Regions from separate parts of the Homo sapiens genome. Here region 1 is linked to region 2. Evidence: fine-mapped expression QTL. A gene starts in region 2. The other region holds a variant in brackets. All regions are shown on one strand. Distances are from middle to middle. Region 1 has its middle 4.7 kb from the start of ZBTB3. Region 2 holds the start of STX5 (syntaxin 5).

Region 1 (2,906 bases), 82 kb before region 2:
ATCAATACAATGGTTCCTGTGTTCCCCAGACTGTCTGGAGAGATCATCTACATCAAAATTGTCTACACATATAGACCATTTATTATGCCTTGATTTTAAGAACTGATGTTCTGAGACAACCAGGTTTTTTTTTTTCTGTTTTGTGTTTCTGTTGAAATTGAGATATTCAGACCGTAAAATCCACCCTTTTAAGGGCAACTGATTCATAAAGGCATTTTGATTTGATATTTACTCTAGGGAAGACTTTTGAAAAGGTGTTCTACCCAGCTAGAATAGCTTTTATTGTATTTATTTATATCTTGCCTTGTTTCATCAAGGAATTAAAGCAGTAACGTACTTGCATAAATAAAATTAGGAGCCATTTGAAAGATAAGCTAGAAGTTTATTTCAACACAAAGAATGTGAAAGAATGTAGAATTCATTCAGCAGAAAAATGTTAACCATCTTTTGCTTCCCATATGTCCTAGTTAAGGAGCTTTCTTTAGCCACATGGCTGCTCACCTTTCCTTCCTGTAACTCAAAAATAGTCACTTGCTGGTAAGGGTTCACAGTGCTGAATATGACACAGACTCAAAAAGAGAGAAGAATATTTACTTGTCATTTTCCCCCTTTTCTTTTTTTCTTTTTTGAGATGGAGTCTCGCACTGTCACCCAGGGTTGGAGTGCAATGGCGTGATCTCGGCTCACTGCAACCTCCGCCTCCCGGGTTCAAGCAATTCTCCTGCCTCAGCCTCCCGAGTAGCTGGGATTACAGACGCCTGCCACCACGCCCAGCTAATTTTTTGTATTTTTAGTAGAGATGGGGTTTCACTATGTTGGCCAGCCTGGTCTCCAACTCCTGACCTTGTGATCCGCCCGCCTCGGCCTCCCAAAGTGCTGGGATTACAGGCGTGAGCCACCGCGACCAGCGTATTTCTGTTTTCCTTCCTGCTTTATTTGCACTCATGTCCTTACGTACCAAGAAAAAGTTTGTAGGCAAACCTTTAGGCCCTCCTACAGCACAGGCGGGGCCAGACTCCTCACACATTCCCAGAGCTCTTTTTTGCCCCCATCCCATGATGGCACCCCAAACTCCCATTTCTTTGCTATCTCCACTGTCAGTAACCACCTGCGTGACCTTAGGTGAGTAACCTAAACCTCCCTAGACTGTTGTCGTCACACTTTTCAAGTGAGGGAGTTGGACTACATGAACTGTAAGATCCTCTCATCCTGAGTTTCTCGCTTTAGGTTTTGCAAGTACCCATCATTGCCACAGCACCTCAGACCCTCAACCTCCCACCACTAATCAGCCACTATGGGCCTTAGTGTTTCCTGCCTTCCAGTTTCTCATCTTCAAAGAAGTCAATTCATATCTACAACTTGAGGCAAAAATTTCAGATCATCAATACAGTACCTGTTCTATCAACAAAAGGTCTTTCAGTGGGGAAAGCAGAGGTAACAAGGCAACAAAGCCAAATACACAAAAGGACAGAAAAAGAAAACAACTTACAGTTCTTGGTTAACTAAGTTCAACTTTTCATTATTATTTTATAGTGACAGGCAGGCCTCACTATGTTGCCCAGGCTAATCTGTAACTCCTAGCCACAAGCGATCCTTCACCTCAGCCTCCCAAAGTGCTGGGAGAACAGGCATGAGCCACCCCAACAGCCCTTCAAACAATGTTGTT[T/G]TTTTTTTTTTTTTTGAGACAGAGTCTCACTCTTGTTGCCCAGGTTGGAATGCAATGATGCGATCTCGGCTCACTGCAACCTCCGCCTCCCAGGTTCAAGCAATTCTCCTGCCTCAACCTCCTGAGTAGCTGGGATTACAGGCACCCGCCACCAAGCCTGGATAATTTTTGTTTTCTTTTTTTTGAGGTGGAGTTTCGGTCTTGTCACCCAGGCTGAAGTGCAGTGGCGTGATCTCAGCTCACTGCAACCTCTACCTCCTGGGTTCAAATGATTCTCCTGCCTCAGCCTCCCAGGTAGCTGGGATTACAGGCGCCCACCACCACTCCTGGCTAATTTTTGTAGTTTTAGTAGAGACGGTTTCACCATGTTGGCCAGTCTGGTCTTGAACTCCTGACCTCAAGTGATCCGCCCGCATTGGCCTCCCAAAGTGCTGTAATTACAGGTGAGAGCCACCATACCTAGACAATTTTTTTTGTGTTTTTAGTAGAGATGGGGTTTCACCATGTTGGGCAGGCTGGTCACCTCGGCCTCCCAAAGTGTTGGTATTACAGGCATGAGCCACCACACCTGGAAGAAACAATGTTTTTAACCAGTATAGCAGGCAGGGTGTTTGCAGTGGCAAGCCAGGTTCAAATGCTGGCTTGCCCCTTAACTAGCCTCTGTGACCCTGAACAAGTTAACTTTGATTTCTAAGTCTCAGGTTTATGAACAACAACAAACAAAACAGGAAGTGGACCTCATACCTCCTAATGTTGTTGAGGATTAAATGAGTATTTATACGAAATGTCTGATAAAGCCCAGAAGACAGCTCGACTGCAATAATAAATCATAATTTTATAAGCTTCCTTAATTTCTATACTTCTCCTAAGTAAAGGCTACATCGCCCTCTGCCTGTCCCACTTTTTTCCTCATGAGCAGTCTGACCCCTACCCCTACCCCTACCCCAAGTACAGATGTAACATTCCAAAAAGAACTGAAGGAGAGCCGTGGCTCACGCCTGTAATCCCAGCACTTTGGGAGGCAGAGGCGGGCGGATCATGAGGTCAGGAGATCGAGACCATCCTGGCTAACACGGTGAAACCCTGTCTCTACTAAAAATACAAAAAATTAGCCGGGCTTGGTGGTGGGTGCCTGTAGTCCCAGCTACTAGGGAGGCTGAGGCAGGAGAATGGTGTGAACCAGGAAGGCGGAGCTGGCAGTGAGCCGAGATCGCGCCACTGCATTCCAGCCTGGGTGACA
Region 2 (2,906 bases):
CACATCCAACCCTAAGTGATTTTGATACAAATTACTGATCTAGGGCCAGGTGTGGTGTCCAGACCAACCTGGGCAACATAGTGAGACACTGCCTGTACGAAAAAATTTTAAAATTAGCTGAGTGGTGCATCCATGTAGTCCCAGCTGCTCAGGAGGCTGAGGAAAGAGGATCCCTTGAGTCTAGGAGTTCAAGACTGCAAGTGAGCTATCATCACACCACTACACTCCAGCCTGTTGACAGAGTTGAAAAACAGATCTCAAAACAAAACAAAAACAACAAATTACTTATCTAGAAAATGTCCTTAATCTTACAGAGATAAAAACTAATATGTAACTAGATTAACTAATTTTCTCATGGTTACAGAGCAAACTTATGGTAGAAGTATATTGGAAAATTCAAGGTGCATGTTTCTCAGCTAAAGGCTCTTCCTAGAACTTGTTCCTTATTCACACCAATTATATTGCAGCCAAGTACTCTCTGAAGTACTCCCTCCAGAATAGCAATCCTGCCCTCCAAAGGATTCCTCACAAAAAAAAGTCTAAGTCCTTGCCCCTAGTTAGCCAGCCGACCTCTTCTCTGTTGCTTATAGCAGACCCTACAGGCCCCATCCAAGCCTATCAGTTCCATCAGGTACCCCCCAAAATTACTTCGGTTAACAGTGGTGGAGCACAGTCCTTCCTAGATTTGAGTAAGGCTCACTCCTCGCCTTTTCCACTCCAGGTCCTTACCTGACGGGTCTGCAGCGACTTGCAGGCAGACAGAAACTCCTGGGTCCGATCCCGGCAGGACATGGTGTCGGGAGGGGGAGGGACGAGGGTCACTGGGGGGGGCAGAGGGGCGATGTCGCTGCTGCTACTGCCAGCAGTTGCAGGGGACAGGACCTGTGTCTTTGAGAGACCCAGGTAGACACCCTGATCCGTGTTCTTAGACCCGTAGCGTTTCCGCGGGATCATTGAGACGCATAACCTCGGACTGTTGTGGAGGGGAGAGTGTCATTCCCCAGGCAACTTCTTTACCCAAACTCCCCCGCCCCACCCCAATCAACAAATCCCCGAGCCCCTTCTGCACTTCTCGTGGACTTTCGCGCCCAGGACGCTCGCAAATCCTGGGGCGGACCAGCAGCGGAAAGGGCCCCGCTTTTCCCCTGTCCCAAGTCGAACCCGCTTCAGACTCTTCTTCCAACTTGGCTCTGGCGGCCAGAGCGCGGGCCGGGGACCCTGAAGCAGAGACAGGGCCAGAGCCAACCCCGTGGTCCTGAGACTCCGGCCCGGCCCGTGTAACTGCCCCGGGCCCTAACCCAGCCCTTTCGTTTCCGCGGTTTCCTTCGGCCCCTCCGGGAGGGCCAGTGACGGACCTCCAAAGACTGACACACTTCGGTGGGCGGAGGGGGAAAACCTCTGGGTGTTTATTTGAAACAGGAAGTCCCACCCCCCGCCCAAGGTCCGCCTTCTGGAAGACTTCAACCACTCATTAGCTAAGGCCGACGTCTCTCTCAACAGAGGCTTTCCTGATTGGACGGCAAGGAATTCGCTCACCCGGAGCCGGGCCGGCAGGACTTGCCCGCTCGCCCCTGATTCCCTTCCCCCCGCCAGTCGTCGCCCCCGTAAAACCACTGCCCCAGAGCTGACACGGCGGCCAGATCCCCTCTTAAAGCGAATCTTACCTCCCCTCTGCCGCCTGCCGCCGCCGCCACTTCCAATCTCACCGGCCGTCACTGCCTCCTCCCCGAGCACTGAAGCCGCCGAAACCCGACCAAAGACTGGAAGCGGCCACGTCACCTACACGTAACCCCACCCCCAGTGACGAGGGGGCGGTCCCACGCGTTTCAAGCCCAGCGACCCGAAAGACACGCCCCACACCCAAACGCAAGAGCGATCCCGCCCTCCCATTGGCTAAGGCGCCACCGTGACCCCGCCCCAGAGTACTACAGCAGGCGCTCAGGGGGCTGGGCCCGCCTCCGGGAAGGAGCCTTAAAGAACCAGCTGCCCGGTGGTGTCCGCGCCCAGTCCCCCAGAGTGGTCGTGCAGGTATACGTTAGAAATTTTATTCTCTGGAGGTTGGGGCGGACTGAGAGCAGGTCTGGGGTCATCCCTTCTCCGGCTCCTCCTGGTTGCCTTCTCGGATCGGACTCTCCTGCTTCCGAATCTGGTCTGGTTGCCTCTTGCTTGGCCGCGAGGAGCCCCGACGACCGAACGTGGATAGTCGCCGCCACAGCACGGTAATCAGAAGGCTTTCGTTCGACTTGTGATTCGGATGGTCCGGGGAGTTCAAGTCGATATCTTCGGCGCCTGAGGGGACGACGAGGCCTCTGAGCTCACCCCTACCCTCGGGAAGCCCCCTCTCACACTCCCTGGGCCCTCTTTGTGTGTCTGTGGTCTCATCTTCCCTGCCGTCCTCAGACTCTTCCTCCTTGGACTGCTCATCAGACATCTCAAAGTCCTTGTCTTGGCAGCAGCCCATGGCCCCGCGTGGCCCTGGACTCCGTGCCACCCACGCCAGCCTGCCTGCCTCCAGGCCCGGCTTTTGTGACATCAGATATCCCGTCGCCCCAGCTCAGGCAGCCCCCACCCCAAGCTACCCCTCATTCCTTTCTCCCATCACAAAAGGCTCAGGGTCATGGTGGGTGTTCAGCAGTTTATTTACAAAGTGGGCACAGGGGCGTCAGGGGCTGGTGGACCCAGGCCGCTTCTTCTTTCTCCGTCTCGTTTGGAGAGCTCCTTGGGGCTGCTCCAAACCCGAGAGCTTCCGCTTGGCAGCTGCCTCCAAGGATGCCCAAAGTTCATCTGTCTCTGTGTCTTCTAGGGGCACCTTGTTGGGTTCTTGAGGCTCTTGGGGCTCATCCTGGTGAGTGGGAAGAAAGCTTAGGAGTCAGGGGGGCCGGGCACGGTGGCTCCCACCTGTAATC

Evidence for each region. PIP is the estimated chance that this variant, and not a neighbour inherited with it, causes the effect.
Region 1: its variant is fine-mapped to the expression of STX5 in whole blood (TOPMed, PIP 0.99).

Annotation. Positions count from the first base shown.
Region 1 is chr11:62,747,958-62,750,863 of GRCh38, forward strand. No RefSeq gene overlaps it. Among named protein-coding and RNA genes, the nearest start is that of ZBTB3, 4.7 kb to the right of the region's middle. The variant T/G (reference allele first, on the strand shown) is at 1,667.
Region 2 is chr11:62,830,290-62,833,195 of GRCh38, forward strand. STX5 (syntaxin 5) reads right to left here and starts at 1,762. Exons shown (of 11, transcript NM_003164.5): 1 at 1,665-1,762; 2 at 730-973. The coding sequence starts at 954. It overlaps TEX54 (testis expressed 54), which reads right to left and starts at 2,552. Exons shown (of 1, transcript NM_001395459.1): 1 at 2,032-2,552. The coding sequence starts at 2,461. The coding sequence ends at 2,087. It overlaps WDR74 (WD repeat domain 74), which reads right to left. Exons shown (of 11, transcript NM_001369450.1): 11 at 2,622-2,842. The coding sequence ends at 2,663. It overlaps STX5-DT (STX5 divergent transcript), which reads left to right and starts at 1,945. Exons shown (of 2, transcript NR_135084.1): 1 at 1,945-2,028. RefSeq lists enhancers at 1,673-1,762, 2,133-2,202, 2,223-2,272.